Linked DNA regions of Homo sapiens: region 1 is linked to region 2. Evidence: fine-mapped expression QTL. A gene starts in region 2. The other region holds a variant in brackets. All regions are shown on one strand. Distances are from middle to middle. Region 1 holds the start of LOC124901938 (a long non-coding RNA gene). Region 2 holds the start of GOLGA7 (golgin A7).

Region 1 (16,727 bases), 38 kb after region 2:
TAGTCTTACATAACCATCAAAACTAAGAAGCCAACAGTGGTATTTAACTATTAACTAAACTCCAGAATTTATTTGAATTTTACTATTTTTTCCCACTAATATTCCTTTTCTATTTCAGCAACCTATCCAGGATACCATGTTTCATTTAGTTGTCATGTCTCATTGTTACCAGAAAGTGGTCCCAACTCAGACTCCAAGAGAGAGTTTTTGGACCTCAAGCGAGAAAGATTTCAGAGCAAGTCCACAGAGTAAAGTGAAGGCAAGTCTTTTAGGAAAGTAAAGGAATAAAAAATTGCTACTTCATAGGCAGAGCAGTGGTATGGGCTGCTTGACTGATTATACTTAAGTTATTTCTTGATTATATGTTAAAGGAGGGGGTGGACGCCAGGCGGGGTGGCTCACACCTGTAATCCCAGCACTTTGGGAGGCTGAGGCAGAAGAATCGCTTGAACCCAGGAGATGAAGGTTGCAGTGAGCCGAGATCGCACCACTGCCCTCCAGCCTGGGTGACAAAGTGAGACTCCATCTCCAAAAAAAAAAAAAGAAGGGGTGGATTATTCATGAGTTTCCCAGGAAAGGGGAGGGGAATTCCTGGAACTGAGGGCTCCTCCCCTTTCTAGATAATATAGTATAACTTCCTGATGTTGCCATGGCATTTGTAAGCTGTCATGGGGATGGTGGGAGTGTCTTTTAGCATGCTAATGCATTATAATTAGCATATAATGAGCAGTGAGAACAACCAGAGGTCATTTTCCTCACCATCCTGGATTTGGTGGGTTTTGGGCCAGCTTCTTTACTCCATCCTGTTTTATCAGGAGGGTCATTGTGACCTGTATCTTGTGTCAGCCTCCTGTCTCATCGTGTGATTAAGAATGCCTGACCTCCTGGGAATGCAGCCCAGCAGGTCTCAGACTGATTTTACTTAGCCGCCATTCAAGATGGAGTTGCTCTGGTTCAAATACCTCTGACATCATTAGTGTCCTCCAATCTGTGATAGTTTCTCCGTCTTTCTTTTTTTTTTTTTTTATGAGATGTTAGTCAAGTATTTTGTAGAATGCCCCTCAATTTGGATTTTCTCATGACTAGCCTGTGGTTTTGGGAAGACTACAGATGAGAGTTTGCATCCCATCGCATCTCATCATGGGATACATGTTGTCATGACTTAGTACAGGCAATGTGAACCTTGATCATCTGGCCAAGGTAGTGTTTGCCAGGTTTCTACCCTGTAAAGTTACTTTCTCCCCAACTGATGCTCTGTTCTTGGGAAGCAAGTCACTAAGTCCAGCATACACTGAAGGATGAAGGGGTTGGGGGAGAGAATTGATTCTAATTAAATGAGAATCTTTCTGGTATTTTGCTATTATGACGTCGACTCTTGGTTTGTTTTAGATATTCTTGACCATGTTAGAGATGTAACTAAAGAAACGTATTTTTACATGAGCATCAGCTACCTAAATTATAATTTGGGGAAGAAATGAAAAAAATGAGCATAGGGAAACAGAAGGAATTTGAAGAAATTAAAACAATAGAAAGAAATTTTACTACTTGAATTAATTCAGAGGAAGCTCATCTGAATTAGTAAAAAGTCTATGCAGAATCTTTGACTTATTCCTTTTTATCTCCACAGGTTCTAAAACACTATATTTTGGGAGTACAGCAAGGGTTGGCGGAATGGAACTGAATAAACAAGTGGGTTTGTTATCCATCTCCGGAAGAATCTCTTAATTTTCTTGCCATTTAAAGTGTATTCAAGCCAGAAACATATTTCAGGTTCCTTTTAAATCTTCTGTAAAAAGAAAGCCACATTCAAAGGATTTGAATAGACATTTCTCCAAAGAAGATACACATGGCTAATAAGCACATGAAGAGATGCTCAAGATCATTAGCCATTAGGGAAATGCAAATCAAAACCACAGTGAGACACCACTTCCCATCCATTAGGACAGCCAGAGTAAAAAAGATAGTAACTATTGGTGAGGTTGTGGAGAACTTGGAACTGGCAGGGATGCAAAATGGTACAGCTGCTTTGGAAAATAGTCTGGCAGTTTCTCAAAAAGTTAAACATAGAGTTACATGACCCAGCAATTCCGCTTCTAGGTATACACCCAAGATAAATGAAAACGTATGTCCACACAAAAACTTGCACAAGAATGTTCATAGCAGCATTATTCATAAAAGGCCAAAACTAGAAACAATCCAGGTATACATCAATTGATGAAAAGATAAATCAAATATGTCATAGCCACACATCAGAACATTACTGAACAATAAAAATAAATCAACTACTGATACATGCTACAGTGTGGATGAACCTTGAAAACATCATGCTGGGCTGGGGGTGGTGGCTCAGGCCGAGTGTGGTGGCTCACACCTGTAATCCCAGCATTTTGGGAGGCTGAGGCGGTTGGATCACCTGAGGTCAGGAGTTCGAGACCCACCTGGGCAACATGGTGAAACCCTGTCTCTACTAAAAATACAAAAATTAGCTGGGTGTGGTGGCACATGCCTGTAATCCCAGCTGCTTAGGAGGCTGAGGCAGGAGAATTGCTTGAGTCTGGGAGGCAGAGGTTGCAGTGAGCCAAGATTGCACCATTGTACTCCAGCCTGGGCGACAGAGCGACACTCCGTCTCAGGGAAAAAAAAAGAAAAAAAAGAAAAAAAAGAAAACATCAGGCCGGGTACGGTGGCTCACGCCTATAATCTCAGCACTTTGGGAGGCTGAAGTGGGCAGATCACCTGAGGTCAGGAGTTTGAGACCAGCCTGACTGACATGGAGAAATCCTGTCTCTACTAAAAATAAAAAATTAGCCAGGCATGGCGGTGCACGACTCTAATCCCAGCTACTTGGGAGGCTGAGGCAGGAAAATCACTTCAATCTGGGAGGTGGAGGTTGTGGTGGGCCGAGATCGTGCCATTGCACTCCAGCCTGGGCAACAAGAGCGAAACTCTGTCTCAAAACAAAAGCAAAAACAAACAAAAACAAAAACAAAAACATCATGCTGGAAAGAAGTCAGTCACAGAGGAGCACATATTGTATGAGTCCATTGTATGAAATGTCTGGAATAGGAACATTGACAGACAGAAAGTAGATTGGTGGTTGCCTAGGATGAGGGAATGACTGCTAATGCATGAGGAGTTTCTTTTGGGGGTGATGCAAATGTTCTAAATTTGATTGTGGTGATGGTTGCACAACTCTGAGTTTACTAAAAACAATGGAATGGTAAACTTCAAATTAGTGAATTGTATGCTATGTGAATTATATCTCAATAAGGTTATTATTTTTTAGAAAAAGAGAGAATGGCAGATTTTGGAATATGGCTCCAGTTTAAACAGACACTAAGGGCATAAACGCAGGCCACAAGTAAGCGAACAATACAGGGAGTGCAGGAAGCAGTTTCAAAAACACAGGACATCATAGTTGCTCTAGAGCTGAGGATATGCTGGCACTCACGGAGAGAGACAGTGACCTCCTGTGTGATGACTTAAGGGCTGAAGTTCCAGTATTATGTGTCGGTATTAGAAATTCCTTCTTTCTTCTTTCTTTTCTTCTTTCTTTTCGTCTTTTTTTTCTCTCCTCCCCTTTCTTTCTCTTTCTTTATATCTTTATCTCTTTCTATCTTCTTTTTCTTGACATGATCTCACTCTGTCACCCAGGCTGGAGTGCAGTGGCACGATCATAGCTCACTGCAGCCTCAAATTCCTGGGCTCAAGTGATTCTTCTGTCTCAGCCTCCCAAATAGCTGGGACTGCAGCTGTACACCACCATGTATGCCACCATGCCTGGCTAATTTTTAAAAATTTTTTGTAGAGATGGGGTCTTGCTATGTTTCCCAGGCTGGTGTCCAACTCCTGGCCTCCAGGATCCTCCCACATCAGCCTCCCATAGCACTGGAATGACAGGTGAAAGCCACCTTGCCAGGTCATAAATTTATTTCTTTAGATTACAAACTTGAAATACAAGTAATCCAATACACAGTGTAAATCCATGCATGAACTTTTTCCGATTGACAACGAGGGCAAGCAGGGTTGGATTATGGAGGAGATCAGCCTCAGAGGGAGCCTGCAGGGACAGACGGCAGCTTGCTGTGCTCTAGAGAACTGGCGATGAGGACGGCCAAAATGAGAGGTCCAAAGAGGCCCCACAGCATAGCTAAGGGCTGTCCTAGGGGTCTCCTCCATTCCAGCCTCTGCCCTGGCCATAGCTCCATAGCTCATCACTTTGGGATGTAGCCTTGTGGTTCCATCTGTCTTTTTTTTTTTTTTTTTTTGAGACAAAGTCTCACTTTGTTGCCCAGGCTGGAGTGCAATGGTGCAATCTTGGCTCGCTGCAACCTCTGCCTCCCAGGTTCAAGCGATTCTCCCACCTCAGTCTCCTGAGTAGCTGGGATTACAGGCGCCCAAGACCACACCAAGACCACACCCAGCTAAATTTTTTTTTTGTATTTCTGTTAGATACGGGGTTTCACCATGTTGGTCAGGCTGGTCTTGAACTCCTGACCTTCAAGTGATCTGCTTACCTCGGCCTCCCAAAGTACTGGGATTATAGGCATGAGCCACCGCACCCGGCCATATCTTGAACTTTCTCTATCAATTAGGAAGTGGGCTTAGGTTTTTCATGCCTGTGACCCACTTTCAAATTCACTCTTATTGCCTTATTCTTTTGGCCATCTTTGGGTATCATGATGCTGTTGGAACAGAACTGCTTCCTGCGCCATCGTGCTGGTTGAATTACTCATGAGATAAAGCTCTTTTGTGGTGCATTCACTTCAGACCCTCATGCATGTAACTGCAGGTTATATCCATGCCATGTTACAGGACCCTCTCAGCTCCATGTTCTAGCCAACACATATTTTGTAATGGTATGTCGAAGAAATGCATTTTACATATTGATCACTAATTGCTTGCTATGGTTTGCAGGTGAGCCACACACCACTGTGTCAAAGTACACTGACTCAGAACTACAGTGCTACACAAGACACACAGATGGGCATGCACTTGCACACTTACATGCAAACACACTCTGTTGAGGGGACCAGTTCAGATTCAGATTTAGGTTTTCATCTGTTTTATATTAAACCTGTAATCCTTCCCATAAGCAAAGCTGGACTTTCCAGCAACTCTCGTTCTTTCTCTGGGCTTCAGGTTTCTTATCTAAAACAAGGAGACTGAATCTCTGGGGTTTTTCTACCTTCCATGGTTATGATTTAGGGTGGGAAAGTGATCTCTCTAATGAGGCTGAGCTCCTTAAGGTTAGAGTTGCTAAATCATTTGTAAAGGGTTTCCCCTTCTGTAACACTGAACAGGGTTATCCTCTGCCATTGGGCATGGGAGGGAGGGAGGATAGTGTTTTCAAGCTACCTCCTACTTTCCAGAATTAAAAGAAAAGTCCCTTTCTTGGTTGAGACTTGCTAATCTAGCTCTTTGTAGGAAATGCTAAGTTAGGTAGCCACTGATTTACTGAGTGCCAGTACTTTGACCCCGTGCACTAACATTATTTTGCACTACATGTGCCTCCTGGACTTTCTTTGATAACTTAAAAAAAATCAGCTTTTATTTTATACTCGGGGATACACATGCAGATTTGTTACATGGATATATGCATGATGCTGAGGTTTGCGGTACCACTGATCTCATCACTCAGGTAGTAAGCACGGTACCCAATAGGAAACTTTTTAGCCCTGGCCCCCACCCCCCGCCCCCCTAGTAGTCCCCAATGTGTGTTGTTGCCATTGGGTAATGTTTGGATAACTTTGGCTTGTTTTTCTAGATTGCATCAGAGAAATGGGAATCCCCCCAGCATATCCCCATCCCCATTCTTCATTCTCTTTGTCTCAAGATAGGCTGGGATGCTGGAAGAAAGCCCCCTTTTGCAGCAGAGCATCTGGGATCCATTTAGGGCCCATAGTGCACTGGCAGAAGAAAGTGACCTAGCATGCTGGCCACAACTGCATCTGTTCCCTGTGCAGGTATCAGAGGGATCACGGCCCCTCCGGTAATTGCTGGAGACAGGGTCAACAGGGCTGAAGCTTCCTTCTCCTTGGGCTCCCTCCCCGACCCCACCACATTCCCTCTTGGGAAAGGCAAGTTGCCAATCCTGTGACACCCCATCTGTCTGACTTACTGCAGCTCCTCCTCCCTCTCCACTCCCACTCTGCCACCCCCATCCCGAGGGCATGGGCTCAATCAATCTCTCCCGGCACCAGGGAGAGACTGAAGTCAGACAGTGGAACTAATGGCTTAGCTCCCCAGGCACCTGGACAACATCCAGGGCTCTGGACACATTCCATGGCGGGGCCATCCATCTCCTTTAGGGGTGCCTTTGCTAACCCAAACATCTGAGCAAGAAGATCCATCTTACCCTACTCCAGGGATATGGGCTAGAGGGAGCATTACATCTGCTATGCTGGGTAAGAGCCAGCTCAGAGCCAATCACTGCGGGAAGACCTGGGCCAGGTAGGCAGGAATAGAGAGTAGAGAGGATGTGAAGGGTCTGATATTCATGGAAACCTGCTGGGGGTTACCTAAGACACACGGACGCCTCACTCCCATGTTACTAAACAAAACATTATAAGGCATATTAAAAGGCAGAAAACACATTTGAAGAGATGGAGCAAGCATCAGAACCGGATTCAGACATGGCAGGGATGTTGGAATTATCAGACTGGGAATTTAAAACAGCTATGATTCATATGCATAAAGGCTCTAATGGATAAAGTAGATAGCATTCAACAAAAGATGGGAAATGAAAGCAGAGAAATGGAAATTCTAAGAAAGAACCATAAGAAATGCTAGAAATCAGAAGCACTATAATCCCAGCATTTTGGGAGGCCGAGGCAGGAGGACTGCTTGAGGCTAGGTGTTCAAGATGAGCCTGAGCATATAGTGAGACCCTGTCTCTACAAAAAGTTAAAAAAAAAAAAAAAGCCAGATGTGGTGGTGTGTTTCTGTAGTCCTAGCTACTTGAGAGGCTGAGGTGGGAGGACTGCTTGAACCCAGGAGGTCGAGGCTGTAATGAGCTATGATTGTGACACTCCACTCCAGCCTTAGCAACAGAGCAAGACACTGTCTCTAAAATCAAAACAAAAAAACACTCTAAGAGAAATGAAGAATGCCTTTGGTGGGCACATTAGTAGACTGGACACGGCTAAGGAAAGAATCTCTGAGCTTGAGGATATCTTTATATAAACCTCTTCAATTGAAAAGCAAAGAGAAGGAAATAGAACAAAGTATTCAAGAACTGTGGGACAACTACAAGAAGCATAACATATGTATAATGGGATACCAAAAGTAGAAGAGAAGAAGATGTCAGGGGTTTGAGACCAGCCTGGCCAACATGGTGAAACCCCATTTCTACTAAAAATGCAAAAATTAGCCGGATGTGGTGGTGGGCGCCTGTAATCCCAGCTACTTGGGAGGCTGAGGCAGGAGAATCGTTTGAACCTGGGAGATGGAGGTTGCAGTGAGCCGATATCGCGCCACTGCACTCCAGCCTGGGTGACAAAGCAAGCCTCTCAAAAAAAAAAAAAATGTTAAAAGATGTTTTTTAGAGAGCAAGACAATGATACAGGTCGGAAACTGGAATCAATACATTGATATTTTGGTCAATGAGAGACCTCATGTAAGATGGTGGTCCTGTAAGATTTTAATGGAGCCAAAAAACTCCTATTGCTTGTGATGTGGTAGCTGTCATAGTGTTGTAGTGCAATGTATTACCTTTTCTATGTTTGGATATGTTTGTTTATTTATTTATTTTTTTGAGATGGAGTCTTGCTCTGTCGCCCAGGCAAGATCTTGGCCTAGTGGCATGATCTTGGCTCCACTGCAACCTCCTGGGTTCATGTGATTCTCCTGCATCAGCCTCCCGTGTAGCTGGAATTACAGGTGCCTGCCACCACACCCAGCTAATTTTTGTATTTTTAGTAAAGACGAGTTTTCACCATGTTGGCCAGGCTGATCTCAAACTCCTGACCTCAAGTGATCTGCCTGCATTGGCCTCCCAAAGTGCTGGGATTACAGGCGTGAGCCACCTCGCCCAACCTCTATGTTTAGATATGTTTAGATTCACAAATACCATTGTGTTCCAGTTGCCTACAGAATTCAGTAATGTAACATGCCGTACAGGTTTGTAGCCTAGGAGCAATATGCCATGCTCTGTAGCCTAGATGTGTAGTAGGACATTCCATCTAGATTTGTACAAGTACACTCGATGATATTCACACAATGACGAAATCATCAAACAGTGCATATCTCAGAATGCATCCCTATTGTTAAGCAATGCATAACTGTATTTGAAGCAATAATAACTGATAATTTCTCCATATTAATGTCAGATCCAGGAATTTCTGAAAACACCAGCAGGATAAATCCAAAAAATCCCTACACCTAGGCACATTATTATATTCAAACTACAAAAAATCAAAGATAAAGAAAAAAATCCTGAAAAAGCCAGAGAGAAGACATTTTACCTAGAGAGAAACAAAGATAAGAATTACATCTGATTTCTCCTCCATGCAAGCAAGAAGAGAGTGTAATAAAATATTTAAAGTGTTGAGAGAAAAAACTCTACTAACCTAGAATTCTGCACCTAGAATCCTGCAAAATTATCCTTCAAGAGTAAAAAAGAAATAATAACTTTCTCAGACCAAAAAAAAAAAAAAAAAAATCCAGGGAATTTTTTTACTGTGGCTCTACCTTGGAAAAAATGTTAAAAGATGGCCGGGCGTGGTCGCTCACGCCTGTAATCCCAGCAATTTGGGAGGCCTTGGCAGGCGGATCACTTGAGGTCAGGAGTTCGAGACCAGCCTGGCCAACATGACCCCGTCTCTACTAAAAATGCAAAAATTAGCCAGGCACAGTGGCATGCGCCTGTAATCCCAGCTACTTGGGAGACTGAGGCAGGAGAACCATCTGAACCTGGGAGATGGAGGTTGCAGTGAGCTGATGTCGCGCCACTGCACTCCAGCCTTGGTGACAAAGCAAGACTCCGTCTCAAAAAAAAAAAAAAAAAACTGTTAAAAGAAGTTTTTTAGAGAGCAAGAAAATGATATAGGTCAGAAACTGGAATCTACATAAATAGATGTATTTATAATGCTTGGAAGAGCATCAAAAAAGTGCAGTGAAAGTAAGGTATTAAAAAATCCCAGCTTACACTGGTTTTGAGATACAAAACAAGGAACACATACCTTATCCTTAAGGAACTCAGGTTCTTTTTTTTTTTTTTTTTTTTTTTTTAAACAGAGTCTTGCTCTGTTGCATAGGCTGGAGTGCAGTGACGTGATCTTGGCTCACTACAGCCTCTGCCTCCTAGGTTCAAGTGATTCTCCTGCCCCAGCCTCCTGAGTAGTTGGCATTACAGGTGTGCCATCACACCCAGCTAATTTTGGTATTTTTAGTAGAGATGGGGTTTCACCATCTTGGACAGGCTGGTCTTGAACTCCTGACCTCAGGTGATCTACCCACCTTGACCTCCCAGAGTGCTGGGATTACAGGCATGAGCCACTGGACCTGTCCAGGAACTCACACTCTAACAGGAAAGAAAAGAAACAGCAGAGCTCATGGGAAAACTATGGGCTTTGGGATCAGAATACTTGAGTTCCAGGTTGAGGTCTACCGCTTAGGAGCTTTGTGTGTGAGGCAAGTTACTTGACTTCTCTGATCTGTTTCCTCAGTTGAATAGGAGATAATGAGAAGTAATGTATACACATATAAATAGGAGTTCAACAAGTGAAAGTGTTGTTATTATGTGATTATTTAGATAGCTCAAATACAAGTCAGGACATGAAAATTACACAAATGAGGACCTGACAATGTGCTGAGGAAGGCAGAAGGGAGGGGCCATGGTTTTTCCCATCGGGGGAGTCAGAGACATCTTCATGCAGGCAGTGGTCAAGAGAATA[C/T]GATTCGTCTTCATTCTCCTGTCATTTAAATCAATGTCTGCTGTTTGGGCTGGGCACAATGGCTCACGCCTGTAATTCCAATAATTAGAGAGGCTGAGATAGGGGGATCGCTTGAACTCAGGAGTTCGAGACCAGCCTGGGCAGCATAGCAAGACTATGTCTCTACAGAAAATTTTAAAATTAGCCAGGTGTCATGGCATTCACCTGTGGTTTCAGTCACTGGGGAGGCTGAGGCAGGAGGATCACTTGAGCCCAGGAGTTCAAGGCTGCAGTGAGCTATGGATGGTGCCACTGCACTCCAGCCTGGGTGACAGAGTGAGACCCTATCTCTAATCTCTCTCTTTATCTATCTACCTACCTGCCTACCTACCTACCTACCTACCTATCTAAACTTCTATTTATTGAGGACCTTCTATGTGTGCGGACATTGAACCACATGTTTTATATTCATGATTTCACATAATCCATCCAACAGTATTGTCAGGCAGAGGTGATGATTCCAGTTTCTCAGAGGAGAAAAATGATATTTCTCAAGATTAAACAAGTTGCCCCGGTCACACAGCTAGTGGATGGTGGAGCTCCGAACCCTAATCCGAATGACTGCATTCTAAAGCTTGAGGAGTGGGGTCTTAGTTTAGAGGCATGGTGCTGTCCACACTGACGATTACTCTTCATTCCAGAAGAGACTCCTCCATTTATCTTTCAGACAGTTCACAAGGGGGCAGGCTGCTCTTGGAGGGTCCTTGGCTCCACTCATCGGTTTCATATACTTAGCTAAATTCTGAGATTTTTAATTGAAAAGATTCAATCAGTGAGGAGAACTGGAGCCCAAAGCAGAAAACCCAGGCTGAAGTTTGTCGTGTGCACTCTGGGAGGGTTAGGAAAAGGCTTGCTAACTGAGAGGAGCACAGATTCCAGGGCTTGCACCAGAACCAGGTGCCAGGCACCAAGACCAGGAGGTCTTGGTCCTTGCTGGCTGGGCACCCAGGGGTCAGAATGAAATTGGAGACCCAGTAAGATCAAGGCTTCCGTTTGAAGGTCCTGTGCCCCTGTACTAAGCAAGGATGACGAGCGCAGGTGTGGATGTCAGGGGCTTCTCACACATTCTGCCTCTAAATAGAGTTACACCCAGAAGTTGAATTCCTGGAACACCAAAAGCACAGTCAAGCCCAGTCTTCCCCTGTAGGCAGCAGCATTTGATACAACCAGATTCTGGGACACTGAGAAAATGTGGGCGATCCCTTGGGGTTTCTTTTAATAATAACCTTTTGTGTTTGTGCAAACTTCATTCTTAAAGCACTTTCATAATCCCTGTTGCTGAATTCTCACAAAGTTCCTGGTCCTGACTTTTCTGTGGAAGCAAACAGAAGTGACCTGATGAGGTGGAAATCACTTGAGATTGGCATCGAGTGAACGTGGGGTTTGACTCTTCTTCTGGATTTAATAGCCGTGACCTGGGTGAGTTATTCACTCTTTTAAGTTTCAGTTTCCTTCTGTGTGCAGTGAGGATTATCCTCAGGCAGGGATTAAGTGACATCTGATACATCAAGTGCCACACAGCGCCTGGCCCGATGCCAAGTGCTCGACAGGTGCCAGTCCCCTTCCTTTCTGCCTCTGTCCACTTCACTCCTGCTGTCTGCCCTTTCAGTCTGGCACCCCTGGCAGCTCTACCTGAACTGGGATGACCCACTGGCAAGGTTGTCAAGGCAGAGTTTCTGCATGTGCCTTTTGTCACAAGGCTGGATGTGGAAGGCTGAGTAAGGTTGGTGCAGAGGCTGTCGGGGGGTCCAGGTGAGAGCTCGGGTTCAGCGTCAGTCTCTGCTGCTTTGTGTTCCTCTCTGGCACAGTGGAGGGAGACCCGTGGTGTCCTGTGGTGTGGGCACATGTGGGTGGGTTATGGGGACAAGCTGGGAGCACCATCAGCTATGAATGGGGAGGTGACAGTTACTCAGTGTGTTTCTTTGTGTCTGGGTTGGGGGAGGACTGGGGCTTGACCTGCATGAGATGGGGGGAGGCTGGGACTTGACCTGCATGGGATGGGGGTGGGGGACCTAGGATTTGGCCTGCATAGGTTTGGGAGGTAAGACAGGCACCATGTCATTCCAGGGACTTGGAGGTTGTTGTGCATAGAAGTGGTTAAAGACTGCATCTCTGTATTTTTGGATTCCAAGTCAGGACACATGGTCTGATACAAGTAAGCTCACAGCAGAAATGGCACAGAATATGTGAAACCAGGAGCATGCCAGGAAACCCAAGACACGTGATCACTGAGCCTGTTCCATCTCCTGAGAGGAGTTGGTTATATTCATTTAGAAGTTTGCTGATGCTTTTTCTGGGAACTTGTTTATTTTCCTTTCCTCAAGGTAGACAGAAAGAAGTCAGGATAGGTGGGATAGGAACTGAGAGGTTTATATATTTGTTTATTTATTTTTTTACCTTTAGAGACAAGGTCTCACTCTGTCATCCAGGCTAGAGTGCAGTGGTACAATCATAGCTCAGTGTAACCTCGAACTCCTGGGCTCAAGTGATTCTCCCACCTCAGACTTGGGAGTAGCTAGGACTACAGGTGTGCACCACCATGCCTGGCTAATTTTTAAAAAAACTTTTTTGTAGATACAGGGGCTTGTTATGTTGTCCAGGCTGGTCATGAACTCTGAGAGGTATATTTTTAGAGGAACAGAACCTTTTAGGCCTTCCTCCACTTTCCCCAAAATGTAGCACCTTCCATGAACCTCGAATCCAGATTCAGGCTGCATGTTTAAAGACAACTTAAAAAACCCATGCAATCTTTCCTTATATTAATTTTATTGAATAACTTTTCTTTCAAAATCAAACACATCAAAGAGTAAAATGGCACTTGATATATAGTTCTTGTTATTTGAAGTAGTTATGCTCTATTAAGTCACAGTGGACACTGAATTAGTGAACACTGAACCACTGCTCCTGGAAGAAATACAGGGTTAAGTTCCTACGAGCTTCTGGTCGCAGCGTTTTCATCAACCAATCAGTATGTAACTTTTGTTTTATATGTGTTTCTGTTTAAAGTTGCCTTATTTAATATGTAATTGTTTAATGACCATTGAATATTAACATGGAACTCATGCGTGATCAAAGCTTATCTAATACATGTATTTTCTCCATAAGGCAAATCACAGTTTTCTTGCATTTAGTAGTGTTAGAAAGTACTTCAGCCCTACACTTGGGGGCAACAGTGAAATCACCAAAAAAATGCACAAAAATGTGAAAACGTGGCACTAGAATGACTTCAAAAAGAGCATTTATTTACAGAGTAAGAGCTGAAACAAGAAGGCAGAATGCTGTCTTATTCAACACCTGGGAATGTGGGCATTGGGCAGCTTGAATTTCTCACTGTTGTGCAGGTTTCCTTGAATGAACATGAACACCAATATATGAGCGTTGACTTGCGGAGTACAAGGAAATTTTAGTGAGTAGGAGAATTTGCAAACATATAATCTGTGAATAATGAGGATCAACTTGACTTTTCTTCCTCCATCTTCCCTCTCCCCCACACCCCCAAGTGCTTTTGGCAAAACCAGACTTCAGGGAAGACAATCACAGAATAAATTGACAGGATTCCTTTGCTTTGGAACTTGCCTGGGAACTTAGCATTTATTTATTCATTTATTTATTTATGTACTATTTTTTGAGATGGAGTCTCACTCTGTCGCCCAGGCTGGAGTGCAGTGGTGCAATCTTGGCTCACTGCAGCCTCCACCTCATGGGTTCTAGCAATTCTGCCTCAGCCACCCAGGTAGCTGGGATTACAGGCATGTGCCACCATGCCTGGCTAATTTTTGTATTTGTAGTAGAGACGGAGTTTCACATGTTGGCCAGGCTGGTCTTGAACTCCTGACCTCAAGTGATCCTCCTGTCTCAGCCTCCCAAAGTGCTGGGATTACAGGCATGAGCCACTGCCCCTGACACTTAGCATTTATTTTAACTTTAATTTTAGGTTGATAACTAATTGAAGCCATTCTGTCTCCTCAGGTCTAGGTAAGCAATGGTACTGGTCTAGGTAAGCAATGGTACTGGTCTAGGTAAGCAATGGTACTGTCCAGCTATCGCCTTGCAAGGTATACAAAGACCTTCCAGATCTGACATGTTGTTCTCTTCATTGCCCTATCTTCCTCCATGCCCTTCCCAGTCTAGCTCCAGCCATACTGAACTCCGTGTAGTTTCCTCCTATGCATATGTGTGTTTGCATATTCTGATCTCTATGCCCAAGCTCTTTCCTGCCTGCGCTGGCTTTTCAAGTATTGCCTCCCTGTGAAGCTTTGACAGTGAGATCCCCCACTCTGTTCTTGACGTCCTAAGCATGCAAACCTATTTACCTTGTTTTATTTTATTTATTTTTTGAGACAGGGTCTCATTCTGTTACCCATGCTGGAATGCAGTGGTGTGATCTTGGCTCACTGCAGCCTTGACCTCCCCAGGCTCAAGCAGTCCTCCCACCTCAGCCTCCTGAGTAGCTGGGATTACAGGTGTGCCACTGCACCCAGCTAATTTTTTTTTGTAGTGATGGGATTTCACCATGTTGCCCAGGCTGGTCTTGAACTCCTGGGTTCAAGTGATCCACCTGCCTTGGCCTCCCAAAGTGCTAGGATTACAGGCATGAGCCATAGTGCCTGGCCTCCTACCAGGGCGTTGTCTGTTTACCTGTTTGTTTTTCCTTTAAGAATGTAAGCCCTTTGAGGGAAAGGACCCTCTCTCACCTTTGTCTACCAGTGCTTGGCAAGCAGCTTCATGAAAGGAGGGATAGAGGGGTGAAGGAGGAAGAGAGTGTTCCAAGATGTTGACACTTCTGCTCACGGTGGTTGAAAACACAGGTATAAGCTAATTAGGATTCATCAAAGGAAGAAAGCAAGGCATCTTATTTTTCTCTTTATTTATGTAACTGTGCACGAGCTTAAAAAGTTAGGTGTAATTTTCACAAAGGTTTAAAATAATTAGGAGTAATTTATTGGAAATCCTTGTGTTCAGCCAAATATGGTGTAAATTACAGACCTTTCATTTCACATTTCTATGAAATATATTTGACTGATAGTGGAGAGCAATAAAGTGGAGTCTTGATCTTGTGCCCCAGAAGTAATCACTATGTACCCATTGCAAGTCATTTCACCTTTTGGGACCTCAGTTTCTGCAGCTGAAAAATAAAAACATTAAGAGATTACACTGGAGTGAGAGTGTTCTGCTGTTTCTATCTGCCCAGCATCCTTTCTGTCTAGGATTAGGCATGGCCAGAAGAATCAGACCTGATAAATCTTTGTATTTCCTCTATCTGGCCAGAAGAATTGGTTCAGGAATGGACATATGATTAAAGTCTGAAATTCTGGAACTTTTGGCCAGGTGTGGTGGCTCACGCCTGTAATCCCAGCACTTTGGGAGGCCAAGGCAGGTGGATCACCTGAGGTCAGGGGTTTGAGACCAGCATGACCAACATGGTGAAACCCCATCTCTACTAAAAATACAAAAATTAGCCAGGTGTGGTGGCGCACACCTGTATTCCCAGCTACTTGGGAGACTGAGGCAGGAGAATCACTTGAACCCAGGAGATGGAGGTTGCAGTGAGCAGAGATCACGCCACTGCACTCCAGCCTGGGCAACAGAGTGAGACTCCATCTCAAAAACAAAAACAAACAAACAAAAAAACCCAGAAAACTTTTGTTGGAACTATTAGTTTAACATGGCAGATGAGATGCTATTAGTCTCCCTCCAAAATCCATTTTCTCCATCTCCCTTAGTAACAGAACTCTTGACTTTTAGCTGGGTTTATATCTTCCAGGAACAAAGATTACACTTCTAGCCTCCCTTACAACTAGGTGTGGGCATATGATTACATTTGACCAAGGATTTTTTTTTTCTTTTTAAGAGACGGGGGTTTTCCTTTAAGAAGTGGATAAAAGACATGAACAGACACTTCTCAAAGGAAGACATTCATGCAGCCAAAAAACATATGAAAAAAAGCTCAACATCACTGATCATTAGAGAAATGCAAATCAAAACCACAGTGAGATACCATCTCATGCCAGTCAGAATGGCAACTATTAAAAAGTCTAGAAACAACAGATGCTGGTGAAGTTGCAGAGAAATAGGAACACTTTTACACTGATGGTGGGAATGTAAATTAATTAATTTAACCATTAATTAACCATTGTGGAAAACACTGTGACAATTCCTCAAAGATCTAGAAACAGAAATACTATTTGACCAAACAATCCCATTACTGGGTATATACCCAGAGGAATATAAATCATTCTATCATAAAGATACATGCATGCGTATGTTCATTGTAGCACTATTCTCCTTCATTCTATCATAAAGATACATGCATGCGTATGTATGTTTGTGGAGGAACTACACAGTCCTGGACTGCTTACTTTGGGATTTTGTTTATGTAAGACAGAATGAACTTCTAGCTTGTTTAAACTGTTGTCACTTTGAGTTTTCTTTTACTTGGCAGCTTAACCTAATCCTGATTGATAGAGAGCTATCGGGAAGGACAACCACTGGGCTTCTGAGATGACCGGCTGGAAGCCTGAACCCGCCGGATGGTCATCTTGCCACCGCATGGGAAGGAAGGTTGCCTGAATAAAGCTGACATAGAAGGAGGCAAGGTAGGAAACAGAGACTCCCTCAGCCCCACTGACATCAAAGAAGCCACTGTATCTGGCTGTGCTTGAAGCTCACAGCTTTTAACTTTTCAGTTTATGTGTGACACTACTTTTGCCTAAATGAATTTTGTGTTAATCAGGGTCTTTGTCTTTCACAACTGAGAGTCCTATCCGATACAAAGCAGCAGAACGACTTCTC
Region 2 (16,727 bases):
CATGGTGAAACCCCGTCTCTACTAAAAATACCAAAAAAAATTAGCCGGGCATGGTGGCGGGTGCCTATAGCCCCAGCTACTGGGGAGGCTGAGGCAGGAGAATGGCGTGAACCCGGGAGGTGGAGCTTGCAGTGAGCCGAGACTGCGCCACTGCACTCCAGCCTGGGTGACAGAGCGAGACTCCGTCTCAAAAAAAAAAAAAAAAAAAAAGCAATAAACTGACAGGGTACTATCATATAGGCAAATATAAAGCCTAGTGGGGACACAAAAGCAAGGAGAAATTCCCTTTATCTGGGAAGGGCAGGTAATCTTAAATTGAGTAACTAAAGACTGGAATTTACTAGGCAAAAAAAAAAAAAATGGCATTTTAGCAGAAGGATCAAAAGGCGTAGGTTCTATATTCTGTTTACTCAGCCTATCTCTTTTGAAGCAATTATCTTGTTACTAAATAAGGTAAAATTTGTTAAGGTAAAATCTCAAGCTAATAAACAATTTTTCACATTAAGTCATTCTTATTACCTCTTTCTATTTGGTGACACCATTATCTTAAATTTACACTAATACTACCACAGGTTGAGCATCCCTGATCTTAAATTCTGAAGTCAGAAAGGCTCCAAAATCTGAAACTTTTGAGCACTGACATGATACCACAAGTGGGAAATTCCAAACCCGACCTCATGTGAGGGGTCACAGTCAAAATGCAGGCGCACAACACATAGTTTATTCAGTGTCCCCAAGAGAAAAAGACCCTTCCAGCCCCCATCAGCTGCCATGTATCTTTTCCATGCACAGCCAGATTCTCCCATGCAAGCGTGCTCACAAAGGGTGATAAGATGGTTCAGTGTACACACACTTTGTCTCATAAAGTCATTTAAAATATTGTATAAAATTACCTTCAGGTTATATGTATAAGGTGGATATAAAACATAATGAATTTCGTGTTTAGACTTGGATCCCATTCCCAAGATATCTCATTAGTATAAACAAATATTTCAAAATCTAAAAAAACCCCAAAAACTGAAATACTTCTGGTTCCACATATTTCACATAAGAAAGAACCTGTACTGTCATCCATTGTTTCACTCAATCATCTGCTTTTACTTTATTCTTCCAATATTACTTTACTGTCTTCTAATAGTACTTTGTATAACAGATTTCAAATTTTGCTACTTCATCCCAGGACTTTCAAGGCCCATTAGGAGAGCAATCATCCAATACTGCCATTCTTATCTGTCTGCACTCTAGGCCTTCTCTCGCATAAGGATTCCCTTATTTCTAAAATTAATAACTACTTACGTATGAATTCTCTCTTTTATGAAGTCCTTATTTAAAAGACTTTTTTGTTTGGCTTTTTTTTTTTCTCCTTTCCTGTCTCTGTGAACCTATTAAATCTTTCTTTATAATAGAAACCGACTCAGAAAAAAAAAAATCAGGCTGGCGTGGTGGCTCATTCCTGTAATCCCAGCACTTGGGAAGTTGAGCTGGGTGGATCACTTGAGCTCAGGAGTTTGAGACCAGCCTGGGCAACATGGTGAAACTCTGTCTCTACTAAAAATGCAAAAATTAGCCAGGCGTGGTGGTGCATGCCTATAGTCCTAGCTACTCAGGAGGCTGAGGTGGGAGGATTGCTGGAGCCTGGGAAGTGGAGGTTGCAGTGAACTGAGATCTCACCACTGCACTCCAGTCTGGGTGACAGAGTGAGACCCTGTCTCAAAAAAAGAAAGAAAGAAAAAAAACCCTCAACATACAGTATGAGCCCTACTATTCACTATTCCCAAGAATGTAATCTTTTTTTTTTTTTTTTTTTTTTTTGAGACAGAGTCTCACTCTGTCACCCTGGCTGGAGTGCAGTGGCGCAATCTTGGCTCACTGTAACCTCTGGTCCCAGGATCAAGTGATTCTCGTGTCTCAGCCTCCCGAGTAGCTGGGATTACAGGCGTGCACCACCATTCCCTACTAATTTTTGTATTTTTAGTAGAGACGAGGTTTTGCCATGTTGCCAGGCTGGTCTCAGGCTCCTAGCCTCATGTGATCCACCCCCCTGGCCTCCCAAAGAGCCACCTGCACCTGGCCTCAAGAACATAATCTTTTAAAGTGTAAAACAATTCATGACCATCCTTAAGCTATGACAACTCTTTAAGTTAGAAGCAGTTGTAGTCATTGTTTTGTCCGTTGTGTGGAAAATGTGAGGAGTCAATGGGCTAGTGGCATGCATGAATTTAATGCAAACTTTAAAGTGGTGTTGGCTCTACCCATTTTTCAAAAGGAGTTACTTTAAATTTCCAGGAATATTAGAGATTTGGACAAAGGCTAGGTGGGTCAAGACGGCCTTTAAACGCAGGGGCAGTGTTTCTTCACTGAGCTACCCCTTGTAGATGTGGTGTCAAGGCTGGTCATCTGGGAAACTGTGAGTTCTCATTCACGAAAACAGACTGAGGAGAGCTCAGCAAACAAAAATGGTAAGCTGTTACGTTCACCTAATTATGCCTACGTTAATGCCTTCAGTTTGTCCACCGATAAGTCTACAAAAGTCTAAATAATTCCAATCACATTTGATGTGCCTATGTTATAAGTCATTGAATTATTTATATTTCTTTACAATACAATTCAAAACCATGGGATTCAACCCAGAAACATCTTATTTCTTTCATATCAGAATTACTGTTTATCCCGGAAACCCTAATTATTATTATTTTTTAAGTTTAGTGACAGAGTATCGCTATGTTGCCCAGACTGGTCTTGAACTCCTGGCCCCAAGGGATACTCCTACCTCAACCCCCAGAGCAGCTGGGATTACTTGGGTGCAAACCACCATGCCCAGCCAGAAACACTTAATTCTTATGCGTTATTCCGAGATTACAATGCCCTATAGGTTAGAGGTAAATCATACGTCAGTTAAACAAACAAACAAAAAAAGGTTAATAAAAAAAGAAAAAGAAAGGATAAATGGTTAAAGAAAAGTAAATGCCAACAAGTTTTTGAAAGGTTATTTTAAAAAAGGGAAATAAAGGGTAAAAATCACAGAAGGCATCAATAAAGGCAAACGACAAACTTCACAAGAAAGGGCTCAAGAGAACAAATGTTGGCATTTGTATCTTACTACCTTTAGGCTATGAATAACAGTGGCCAGTGTTCTCCCTTAGGTTCCTGGACACTGATACAGGAGCTCTATCAAAATTTAGATATATGAGAAGTCACAGCCAAATAAAATTTGGACCCACAAACATCAAAAATCAGAATGGAAAGAGAAATCAGGCTTATTTTCCCAGAATTACTGTGAACTACACAGTAGAAAGCATGGTGAAGCATGCAGTGATCACGTATCAAGGGTGGCAGGTCAAAGGTAATTACTAACCAGATGGGGAGACATATTTTTAAAGGGAAAAAATGCCTCAATTACAGTTCACTCATTCTTCTACCCAGACCAAGGGTAACTAAGATATCTGTATTTTAAGGCTAATGAGAATAAAGTTTCCTTTAAGGAATTGTTCTGGCAACAAATCGCTTAAGCATCAAAGTATTACATTCTAAAAGGCAGCAGAGAAAATGAACTTGTTAACAGACAGAACCTATCCTACTCCCAAATTAAAGGGCACAAATGTGTGTGTATTTTTAAAAAATGCTTTAAAATAATACAAAACACTTGCATATTAGTCACTTTCTCTATTATGTTGCCAAGTGTGATGTTCTCACAAAAGGAAAATCAGCTCCAATAGCAGAGCAATCAGTAAAATTTCTAGGGTAAGTAGTAGAGAAACAGAAACCTTTCAATTTTTCATCAAAGCAAGGAAAGTTTAAACCTGTAATTTAAATTTAATCTCAACACACATACACAGACAATCAAAGCTTTTCTAGTGGTTTAAAGCATAAGCTAGTGTTTTAACCCAAACATTTAAAAAGAAAAAAGAAATTCAAAGGCACAATTGAAGAGTGCCATGTAACATTCCATATAGTACTCAGTACCACAAGCAGTTCTGGGCTATACAGAGTCAAAGAGGTAAAAGGACTCCAGAATTTAGAAACATCAATTTCCTGACAAGAATCAGTGGAGCACAGTAACTACATTGTGCTTTTGCACTTAGATTACAAAATAAAGGCTCTGCCACACACAGAGTGGAAGGCTAATGTCTGATTCTGTGTATACACATTTAGCTCAAATATATGAGGTGTAAGTGTTGCTTTAAAACCTTAAAGCAAAGGAATCTTTAATGTCCAAATAATTGTGGTAAAAAAAGAATACTTTATATTCTGATTTTGAAGTACATAAATTGTATGTCATAGTTTCCGTAAGAGGCTTAAAAATAAAACATTTGATTGATTCCATGTATATCTTTTTATTTGATTTATTTTTTGAGACAAGAGTCTTGCTCTGTCGCCCAGGCTGGAGTACAATGGCATGATCTCGGCTCACTGCAACCTCCGCCTCCCAGGTTCAAGAAATTCTTCTACTTCAGCCTCCTGAGTAGCGGGGATTACAGGTGCCCGCCACCATGCCTGACTAATTTTTGTATTTTTAGTAGAGATGGGGTTTCACCATGTTGGCCAAGCTGGTCTTGAATTCCCGACCTCAAGTGATGCACCCGCCACGGCCTCCCAGAGTGCTGGGATTACAGGCGTGAGCCACCGGGCCCAGCCAGATTCCATGTCAATCTTAACATGTAAAACACATCAATTGTGATGTTAAATTATTTTAAAACAACATTCAGTAGCTCTACCCAACTGGCCACTTGCTGAATTTCTACCTCTTCAAACCACTGTAGATAGTTCCACCTATTGTCACGCTCAGTTAACTCATAACATAGTTGACAACATACTGCAGCATTTAAATGGCATTTCAGAAACAAGTCACCTCACCATCTTTTAAAGGCATATTTGATCCATTTGCAATTCAAGAAACATATTTGGGCCATGAAGCTGCCCATGGTTATGTCAAACTGAAGGAAACTATAATGGATCATTGTTGATTTCCCAACCATGGAAATCGGGCAGTGCAACCCACCTCACTGCAAACTGACTGTAAATAACTGCTACACATTTCTCTACACAGACTCATCCACACCCACTTATCCCATGACCAGCATCTCTCAGTCCCACACCCAAGGAATGCCTAATCACCTCTCAGGCCCTCGTCCTCCCTGTCACAGAGGAGAGAGCCACAAAACCTGCTTCCAGCTAACCAGAAATTGATCCCTGAACGGGAAACACAATCTACATAACATGGGTCAAGACCAAAAGAATCTTTGGTTGAATGTACATATGTGGGCACACAAAAACACAGGCAGGCACGCACACACTCCATTACCTCTACAACAAGATACAATGATTTTTTTTTTTTTTTTAAAGTTTTGCTAGGTCTGAAGGGGAAGCAAATCCCATTCTTCCATTTTTGCCTGCAATGTTGCCCAAAGGACCTATATCCTGATGACCATTTTGATATGCAAGACAAAACAGGTGGCTCCCAGTGAATGTGACAAGTTTAAGGCCTTGTTCTGAGACATTTTCCTGTCCAGGCCTATCTAACGCCCGACGTCTTTAAGGTTCCAAGAAAGCCTGAACGCACCGCCTGGCCATGCACCTAATAAACCCTTTCAGCCAAACAGTGCGGCCAGCACAGAGGCAGCAAACACCAGTCACGAGAATGATGATGATTTATCTTGCGCGGAGAGGTAGGAGGATATAGTTTACAACCTGGTGACTGAGACGACCTGGAGCCTCAGGAATTGGCTCCTCATCGCTGCCGACAATAACCCGGGGTGGGGATTTGGGGGAGTGCAGCAGGGGAACACTGCTGGATCCAGATTCCCGGCACCGGGCAACAAAGTTCCATAAGGTCGTCAACCCCGGCGATCGGCCTATATTATTCTTCCTGCTCCAAACACCTGTCTTGCTTAGTGGCTCTCTTCTTACACGTTTGGCCAAGGCCCCTTCTGTGCCTGGACCTCCCCAGAACTGCGGGACCCTCAAAGGCCCGGTTGTCGCCCACACCCTTCCCGTCCCCGGTGAGTCTCTCTCCCTCGCCAGAGCAGGCGTGGGGAGCCAGGTTGCGTACCCGGTTCTCCAGCTCCGCAGGGAACTTGGTCTGGAACTGGCAGCGTGTGCCACTGCTGTAGTCTCGCTGAATGAACACCTTTCCGGACACCGGCGCCTGCTGCGGCCTCATGGCGAGGACAGGACACCCCGCGCTGCGGGGTCGGGGGAACACCAACCGCGAGTCAGAGCCCCGGCCTGGACCCGGGACTCTGACCCGCCAGCCCCTCGCCCCCACCCGCCGCCGAAAACAGCCCAAGGCCTCCTCTGCCCCGCTCCCCTTCACCCATGCTGTCACCGCGGGCCTTAGCTGCCGCCTGGCCCAGGCCCCGCGCCCCCCACAACCCGGTTCGGCCCGGGAAACACAAACCCGCCTCCTCTGCCCTCCAGCTGCTGTCGCACCGCCTTCGCCGTCACTTACGTCCTGCCGCAAAAAGCCTCTTCCCCGCCCCTCAGCTCGGCCTCCTACCTCAGGTCTGGGACCCACCCTCTCCTCCGGCCGTAAAGCCACCCTGCCGAAGCTGCGCGCTGTGGGGCTGGGCCGAGGAAGGGAAATGATGTGGGCGGGGCCAGGGCCGACCCCGCCTTCCGCCCGCGCGGGGATTGTTTCCGGAAGGAGAGAGGCGGGGCGAGCTGTGGGGCTGCGGCCGGGGCGAGCTGTGGGGCTGCGGCCGGCGCGAGCGCGCGGGGGTGTGAGGGGCGGAGTTTCCCGGCTGTGTCACTTCCCTAGTGATTGTGGCAGGTGGTTCCCGATCACTGATTGTGAGGGGTCATTTTCGTTCTTGATTGGACGTCGCAGCTTACGTGTGGGTTATGCCACCCAACTCATACACAAAACAAAAAACAAAACATAAAGAAAAAACAACACCCCCTCCCCAAACCCTCAAACACAAACTGCTCATTGTGTTCAGAAGTAGAAAGCAGGCTCCAAGGATGGATCCATTTGGTCCCTAGACTCTTGAGAAAGGGTCAGGAAGTGAGGACGAAGAACCTGCCTGGGCCCCAGCGTTGGGCGCCCCTGCCCCGACTCTTCTTTGGGGGCGGCGTTCCTCTCACCCCCCATTTCCACCCAGCTCCCATCCACATCCCTCAGGTGACCAAGGGGACAAGTGGTTCCGCCCTCGTTGCCCACTGGCCCTTACTTGACTCAGCATTTCTTTGCAAGGCAGCCAAAGAAACCCCACCTTACCCTTGTCTCCTGCTAATACAACCTGTTAGTACCACTGTCTTTTATATATTTAATATAGTTTAAATATCCTGCCTTTTAAATATGAAAAATTCTCTTACTGTATTTTAAAAACAGCTTTTTCGAGATATAAATGGCATACAATAAACCACACATTTAAAGCAGTGGATTTGATAACTTTGGACATATGAATACACCCATAAACCACTGTCACAATCAAGATAGTAAAGCTCCATTGCCCTGAAAAGGTTCCTCCAGCTCCTGTGTAATCTCTCCCTCCTGCCTCTCCCAGACCCCATTTCCCAGGCACTGATCCACCTTCTGTCACTCAACATTAGTTTCATTTCCTTGAATTTTATATAAATTGAATCATATAGTGTGTACCCCCTTTTTTTGCCTGGCTTCTTTCACATAGACTATTTTGAAGTCCATCTGTTGTTGTGTTATCAATAATTCATTTATTTTTGATGCTGGATAGCTATTCCATTGTATGGCCATCCCACAGTTTGTTTATCCATTCATCTGTTGATGGACATTTGGATTGCTTCCAGTTTTGGGATGTTACAAATAAAGCTGCTATGGACATTCATTTGCAAGTCTTTGCATAGGTGTGTAGACCTTAATGCTTTCATTTCTCTTGGGTACATACCTAGGAGTAGAATGGCTAGATTGTACGGTAAAAACACGTTTAACTTTTTGGCAGACTGACAAACTGTTTTCCAAAGTGGTGACACCATTTTGCATTCCCACCAGAGTTCCAGTTGCTCCACATCTTTGCCAAGACTTGGGTAGTAATATCTTCTGCAGCTATAATTTTCATTTTTCCATGACTAATTATTTTGAACATATTTTCCTGTACTTATTTGCCATCCATGTATCTTCTCTGGTGAAGTGTCTATTTAAAACTTTTGCCCATTTTTTTGTTTGTATTTTATTTTCCTGTTGTTGAGGGGTTTTTTGTTTTATTTTGTTTTGATTTACATCTTTATTGGCTGGGCTTAAGGTCAGTTTTAAATTTTTAAGGCACTTTAATTCTTGGATTTTTGTATGTTTAAAGATGTTTTCCTGAGGCCTTTATACTTGCGTGAGAACTTGGCCGGGCTGTTTTTGAGTTTTGAGTTCTTTATACATTCTGGAGAAAAATCCTTTATCAGATATGTGATTTGCATGCATTTTTCACAGTCTGTGATTTGTCTTTTTACTCTCTTAACACGTTAGGGGTTTGAGGGGATTAGGGTGTGGACCTCTTGGGGAGGGCATTTCTGCCTCCCATAGGTATAGAGTGAAACTCTTCCCTCCCCCCGTATGATTATGCAGTTGTTATTCAGTTGTTTACGTACCATTTGTTGAAAAGACTCTCATTTCTTCACTGAATTGCCTTTGTATCTCTGTTGAAAATCAGTGGGGGCCGGGCGCGGTGGCTCACGCCTGTAATCCCAGCACTTTGAGAGGCCGAGGCGGGCGGATCACGAGGTCAGGAGATCGAGATCATTCTGGCTAACACGGTGAAACCCCGTGTCTACTAAAAATACAAAAAATGAGCCGGGCGCCGTGGCGGGCGCCTATAAGTCCCAGCTACTCGAGAGGCTGAGGCAGGAGAATGGGGTGAACTCGGGAGGCGGAGCTTGCAGTGAGCGGAGATAGTGCCACTGCACTCCGGCCTGGGCTAAAGAGCGAGACTCTGTCTCAAAAAAAAAAAAAAAAAAAAAAAGAAAAAGAAAATCAGTGGTGTGTGTGTGTGTGTGTGTGTCTGTCTGTCTGTCCCTCTGTCTGCCTGTTTTGGACTTTCTATTCCGTTTCATGATCTGATCCTGTTTTGAATTAAATGTCTACTAGTGTTTGTCTCCGAAGTTGATGCTTCCTTACTAACTCAGTAAGATCTCCTAGGAGCTGGTTTTCTACATATTTGTTACTAGGGGTTGAGAACACCCTTAAACAGGTAAAACAGTCTCTACCCTCAAAATTTCAGTCTAATGGAGTGAACGAAGAAAACAATTTTCATACATTGTATATTTGGAGTATTTTCCTGCAGCCCTTGGCCACTGAGACTAGGTGGTAAAACAGACTATTATTATTATTTTTTGAGATGGATCTCACTCTGTCGCCCAGGCTGGAGTTCAGTGGCACGATCTCGGCTCACCACAACCTCCGCCTCCTGGGTTCAAGCCATTCTCCTGCCTCAGCCTCCCGAGTAGCTGGAATTACAGGTGCGTGCCACCACACCCAGCTAATTTTTGTATTTTTTTGCGTAGAGACGGGGTTTCACCGTGTTGTCTAGGCTGGTCTTGAACTCCTGACCTCGTGATCCACCCGCCTCGGCCTCCCAAAGTGCTGGGATTACAGGCGTGAGCCACTGCACCCAGCAAACAGATTATTTTTGAATGAGGAAATTTGAGGGCAAATATAACCCAAGGAAAACCCTCTTCATGTTTGGGAAGAGGATCGATCCCAGGTGAAAGAGGAATCAAAGGACGATGAGCTGTATTGTTATCGTCTTCCCTCATCCCTAAACACACTCATGTGTCTAGATTCTAGTTTTGCCATTAAAAGTAAAACAGCAATTACTTTTGTACCAACCAAATAGCTTCTGGCAGTTACCAGCAATCCTTGGAATTCCTTGGCTTATGACAGCATAACTGCAATTTCTGCCTCCATCTTCCCATGGCCTTCTTCCCTGTATCTTCTCTGTGTCTTGAAATATTTCTCTCCTTATAAAGAGCACTATTCATTGGCTTTAGGGCCCACCTAATCCTGTCTGACCATCTTAACCTGATTACATCTGTAAAGACCCTATTTGCAAATAAGGATCTGGGGTTCCCGACTGACATGGATTTTGGGGGACACTATTAAATCTAGTACATCTACCTTGTAGAGGGTGTCAATGTGATATTGTATGTAAAACACTTAGAATGTGTTTGGCACATAACAAATACTGTATGGTACTCTGTTTTTTTTTTAAATTATTACATCATTAGTGACATAGTCAAATGATTTGCTAACATTAACATCATGATAGCAGCAGCTACTATTCATTGGGCTATTAGTGTTAAGGAACTAGGTTGAGCGGTTTATATGCATTACCTCATATAATCTCTACTATATCTATTAATCTAGTAACCCTGGCCAAACAATGATAATACTATATAATACAGATATGATCTATAATCTATGAGCTCACTAGCCCTACACTATTATTTTATTCCTTTCTATGTTTTCAACAATCCTCTGATATTTTAAGGAGCTGAAGTCAAGCTATTAGTCTACAGTATTGACAATTCATTCTTCCTTTTTGAATTTTGAGTCCCTTGTCTATGTTTAGCTTCTTTGAAGCCTACATATTATCTATTTTATTCCTCTGTCCATAATAGATTCTCATGAAATGCTTTGAAAATGAATTCATTCAACAAATATTTGTCGACACTCATAAGGGCTGGTGATGAAAGGATAAAAAAAGTGTGGATTATTTATGTCCTGTGGAAATTCACATTCTTATGGGTGGCCAGGAGGGTGGGAGGAGGGAGATTATAACAGGTTAAAAAACTTTGGGGAAGGGGAGGGGTTTTAACAGAAGGAGAGATAATTGGGCATTCCAGCCTCTCTGTCCAGGGAATGATAAGTATTCATACCTGAAATAAGTAGGATCTGAAGTCTGCTTGGGTGAGGGTCAGGTGGGAGTAGGGATGAGAGATCTTTAATAGAGAAGAGAGATGGTGATAAAAATCTTATATCCTTTTACACACCCCTCTATCGTTTCTTCTCCAAGGTGAATGAACCAGCTTCCTTTATCTTCGATGGTAGGATCTCTATTCCAAAGTTTCTGTCTTTTTGTATGACTCTCAGAACCTTCTGGTGTTTCAAACTAGATACTCTGATAAGAGCGTTAACCTGTGCTGAATATTATCAGTGAAATCCTTTTGTCCCTCCATTTTCAACTCTGTTTTTTTTTCTCTATTGGAACAAAGCTAGCTTTTCAATGCGGGGTCCCATTCTGTATCACCAACTCATGTTCAACTTTTGACCCATCCTGGATCATTTTCGGCCCTGCTTACAAACAGCTTCCCACGCTGCAGATGGCGTCTTCTCTTCAGCTACGATCTCTCCTGGGCTTTGTTCTATTTGTGTCCAACCACTTCCTCCCAGGTCCTTCATAAAGATCTCAATTGGATTGAAAGACGTCCTTATACTAAAGAAATTTTAAACTGTCCTCCTTGGCCATGCTCACGTTGCTCACCGAAGCCATCCCCGTTTCGTCTAACATCGTTTTTTTTGTAGTAGTTGTTTTCTTCTAAAGCTTTGAGGCATGACTGGGGTGGGGGCAGATCAAATCCATTTTCCTCGTTTTCAGTTCTAGTGTCTACCATGCACTGGTACAATGGGCAGAACTCCAAGGATCATTGTCTCTTTGTTTTCATGCATTTGCTGGTAATTTCAAGTCAGCTTCCGTTTTATAAGCTTGTATGTCTTTATTGCATTTTGAGAGAACATTATTGGCATACCTGAATTGACAGCATCTGTTCCTTCCATTTAAATTTCACCATCTAAAACAACGTGTGTCCCAGTTTCAGGAAACAGGCTGAACAGATGCCAGACAGTTGTACTGAATGCTCTCTCCATGAAAGAGCTGCTCTTGCTTACATTTTTGTTTATTTCATTGTGAGGGAGAAGAGCAGATTGAATGATGTCATTAATAAGGGTCCTTTGCCTTTATTGTTTAGGATCCTATTGAAGACCTCTCATATCTGAAGTGGCTGGTGGATAAGAGGGTTTGGAGATTTCAGACTCTTTTCACCAGCACAGTGTAGAATTGCAGAGCTGGAAGCAAGGGTGGTGTCACGGGTGTGTGACTTGTATAGTTGCATAGGGATCTGCACTGAGAAGAGCTCTCTTCTTGGCTTAATGTCCTGCTGTCATCATCTTGAAATTCGTAATACTTTCTGAACATGGGAGTCTGCACTTTAATTTTGCACTGGGCCTCAAAAATCATATAGCTAGTTGTGGATGGAAGAAATATGAGGGCATCTAGTGGGAACACACCATCATTATCTGGGATAGATGATTAACTGTCCATATCTTCTGTGGAACCTGATTTGACGGCAGTTTTGACAAAAGTAAAAAGAAAAACAGGCTGGGTGCGGTGGCTCACGCCTGTAATCCCAGCACTTTGGGGGGCCGAGGCAAGCAGATCACGAAGTCAGGAGTCGGAGACCAGCCTGGCCAACATGGTGAAACCTCGTCTCTACTAAAAATACAAAAATTAGCCCGAGGTAGTGGCATGCCCCTGTAATCCCAGCTACTCGGGAGGCTGAGGCAGGAGAATCACTTGAAACCAGAAGGTGGAAGTTGCAGTGAGCTGAGATCGCGCCACTACACTCCAGCCTGGGCAACAAGAGTGGAACTCGGTCTCAAAAAAAAAAAAAAAAAAAAAAGAAAAGAAAAGAAAAAAAAGACCTCCCTCCTTAGAATTGTACCTCCCTTGAGTTGGAGGGGCCTGGTAAACATCTGGCCCAGGTGTCCTTCTTAGAATCTGGCACTATTTCAACTATCTTTATGACCTCTAGGGATGAAAACTTCACAATTCCCCCTGTGGGCTCTTCCATGTGCACTGCATGTTATGTCTAATTTTCCCATAAAGGACAAATACTCACTAACACAAAGGATTAATTTCTACGGTTGCTTTATAGTAATATGCATTCTAGGGCATTGGAAAAATGGGAAATGAGGCTGTCTGTAAAATCCCCTCCACCCACTGTGGGATAGCATTGTTGAAAAAGGGATGCATACTTTAATCTTTCCTTTTGAGAGAGCAAAATTCCTGTCCTTTTGACATTTGTTACTGGAGATACATTTATAGAGGGAATGAGTTGGACAACTTGAGGCTAGAAAAGAATCAAGATGAGGAATGACTGGAGTAAAGGATCCCAAAAAAGACAAAAGAGAAGATGGGAGTGTAGAGGATGTTGTTTTGAGAAAGGCACATTTGTGGCTGGAGACTCAGAACCCTGCTTAGTATGTTTTAGAAGCCTCTCTGCTTTCCACACTATCCATTCACAAATGTTATTGAATCCTGCTTTGCAGAAAGCACTCCGTGTTCAACTCAACCTCTGTACCCATCACACCTTTTATGGCTGAGTGGTGCTGAACCAAGTGGTATCCATATCGTTTGTAATATGTTTTTCATTCTTTGATATGTCAACCTGAAATAATGGAAAGGATCAGAATCCAGTTTTAAAGAGCGTATTCAAGTGAAAAGTTGGGAATAGCCATCCGGGAAAACCAGACTCCAGAGAAATGGAGCGAGTGCTCTGAAGTTAAAAGTTAAGGTCTTGCTTATACCGACAGAAAACAAATAAATTTGGGAGGATCATAACATTTTCTATACAAGGCTGGTTTATAATCAAATTATAACAATTTGATTAGTTTGTTTTCTATATGGCTTGTTTTCATTTCCTCTCCAGTTTAAAAGAATATATTTAACATTCCATCTTAAGACAATATGATAAAGTCTTTGTGTGAGAGAGGTAAGAGGTAATTTATTTATTTACTTATTTTTTGACTTTTTTATTATTATACTTTAAGTTCTAGGGTACATGTGCACAATGTGCAGGTTTGTTACATATGTATACATGTGCCATGTTGGTGTGCTGCACCCATTAACTCGTCGTTTACATTAGGTATATCTCCTAATGCTATCCCTCCCCACTCCCCCCACTCCATAACAGGCCCCAGTGTGTGATGTTCCCCACCCTGTGTCTAAGTGTTCTCATTGTACAATTCCCACCTATGAGTGAGAACATGCGGTGTTTGGTTTTATGTCCTTGTGATAGTTTGCTGAGAATGATGGTTTCCAGCTTCATCTATGTCCCTACAAAGGACCTGAACTCATTCTTTTTTAGGGCTGCATAGTATTCCATGGTGTATATATGCCACATTTGCTTAATCCAATCTATCATTGCTGGACATTTGGGTTGGTTCCAAGTCTTTGCTATTGTGAATAGTGCCACAATAAACATACGTATGCATGTGTCTTTATAGCAGCATGATTTATAATCCTTTGGGTATATACCCAGTAATGGGATGGCTGGGTCAAATGGTATTTCTAGTTCTAGATCCTTGAGGAATCGCCACAATGTCTTCCACGATGATTGAACTAGTTTACAGTCCCACCAACAGTGTAAAAGTGTTCCTGTTTCTCCACATCCTTTCCAGCACCTGTTGTTTCCTGACTTTTTAATGATTGCCATTCTAAATGATGTGAGATGGTATCTCATTGTGGTTTTGATTTGCATTTCTCTGATGGCCAGTGATGATGAGCATTTTTTCATGTGTCTGTTGGCTGCATAAATGTCTTCTTTTGAGAAGTGTCTGTTCGTATCCTTTGCCCACTTTTGGATGGGGCTGTTTGATTTTTTCTTGTAAATTTGTTTAAGTTCTTTGTAGATTCTGGATATTAGCCCTTTGTCAGATGGGTAGATTGCAAAAATTTTCTCCCATTCTGTAGGTTGCCTGTTCACTCTGATGGTAGTTTCTTTTGCTGTGCAGAAGCTCTTTAGTTTACTTAGATACCATTTGTCGATTTTGGCTTTTGTTGCCATTGCTTTTGGTGTGTTAGTCATGAAGTCCTTGCCCATGCCTATGTCCCGAATGGTATTGTCTAGGTTTTCTTCTAGGGTTTTTATGGTTTTAGGTCTAACATTTAAGTCTTTAATCCATCTTGAATTAATTTTTGTATAAGGTGTAAGGAAGGGATCCAGTTTCAGCTTTCTACATATTGCTAGCCAATTTTCCCAGCACCATTTATTAAATAGGGAATCCTTTCCCCATTTCTTGTTTTTGTCAGTTTTGTCAAAGATCAGATGGTTGTAGATGTGTGGTATTATTTCTGAGGGCTCTGTTCTGTTCCATTGGTCTATATCTCTGTTTTGGTACCAGTACCATGCTGTTTTGGTTACCTTGTAACCAAACTATACTACAAGGCTGTTTTGTAGCCTTGTAGTATAGTTTGAAGTCAGGTAGTGTGATGCCTCCAGCTTTGTTATTTTTGCTTAGGATTGTCTTGGCAATGTGGGCTCTTTTTTTTGATTCCATATGAACTTTAAAGTAGTTTTTTCCAATTCTGTGAAGAAAGTCATTGGTAGCTTGATGGGGATGGCATTGAATCCATAAATTACCTTCAGCAGTATGGTCATTTTCACAATATTGATTCTTCCTATCCATGAGCATGGCCTGTTCTTCCATTTGTGTCCTCTTTTATTTTGTTGAGCAGTGGTTTGTAGTTCTCCTTGAAGAGGTCCTTCACATCTCTTGTAAGTTGGATTCCTAGGTACTTAATTCTCTTTGAAGCAATTGTGAATGGGAGTTCACTCATGATTTGGCTCTCTGTTTGTCTGTTATTGGTGTATAGGAATGCTTGTGATTTTTGCACATTGATTTTGTATCCTGAGACTTTGCTGAAGTTGCTTATCAGCTTAAGGAGATTTTGGGCTGAGACAATGGGGTTTTCTAGATATACAATCATGTCATCTGCAAACAGGGACAATTTGACTTCCTCTTTTCCTAATTGAATATCCTTTATTTCTTTCTCCTGCCTGATTTCCCTGGTCAGAACTTCCAACACTACGTTGAATAGGAGTGGTGAGAGAGCGCATCCCTGTCTTGTGCCAGTTTTCAAAGGGAATGCTTCCAGTTTTTGCCCATTCAGTATGATATTGGCTGTGGGCTTGTCATAAATAGCTCTTAGTATTTTGAGATACGTCCCATCAGTACCTAGTTTATTGAGAGTTTTTAGCATGAAGGGCTGTTGAATTTTGTTGAAGGCCTTTTCTGCATCTGTTGAGATAATCATGTGGTTTTTGTCTTTGGTTCTGTTTGTATGCTGGATTACGTTTATTGATTTGCGTATGTTGAACCAGCCTTGCATCCCAGGGCTGAAGCCAACTTGATCGTGGTGGATAAGCTTTTTGATGTGCTGCTGGATTTGGTTTGCCAGTATTTTATTAAGGATTTTTGCATCGATGTTCATCAGGGATATTGGTCTAAAATTCTCTTTTTTTGTTGTGTCTCTGCCAGGCTTTGGTATCAGGATGATGCTGGCCTCATAAAATGAGTTAGGGAGGATTCCCTCTTTTTCTATTTATTGGAATAGTTTCAGAAGGAATGGTACCATCTCCTCTTTGTACCTCTGGTAGAATTTGGCTGTGAATCCATCTGGTCCTGGACTTTTTTTGGTTGGTAGGCTATTAATTATTGCCTCAATTTCAGAGCCTGTTATTGGTCTATTCAGGGATTCAGCTTCTTCCTGGTTTAGTCTTGGGAGGGTGTATGTGTCCAGGAAGTTATCCATTTCTTCTAGATTTTCTAGTTTATTTGAGTAGAGGTGTTTATAATATTCTCTGATGGTAGTTTGTATTTCTGTGGGATTGGTGGTGATATCCCCTTTATGATTTTTTATTGCATCTATTTGATTCTTCTGTCTTTTCTTCTTTATTAGTCTTGCTAGCAGTCTATCAATTTTGCT

The links. PIP is the estimated chance that this variant, and not a neighbour inherited with it, causes the effect.
Region 1: its variant is fine-mapped to the expression of GOLGA7 in whole blood (INTERVAL, PIP 0.98).

What each region holds. Positions count from the first base shown.
Region 1 is chr8:41,442,401-41,459,127 of GRCh38, reverse strand. It overlaps LOC124901938 (a long non-coding RNA gene), which reads left to right and starts at 16,188. Exons shown (of 2, transcript XR_007060897.1): 1 at 16,188-16,531. The variant C/T (reference allele first, on the strand shown) is at 9,897.
Region 2 is chr8:41,480,288-41,497,014 of GRCh38, reverse strand. GOLGA7 (golgin A7) reads right to left here and starts at 6,433. Exons shown (of 5, transcript NM_001002296.2): 1 at 6,050-6,433. The coding sequence starts at 6,160. RefSeq lists enhancers at 5,803-5,912, 5,963-6,072, 6,363-6,492 and a silencer at 6,543-6,802.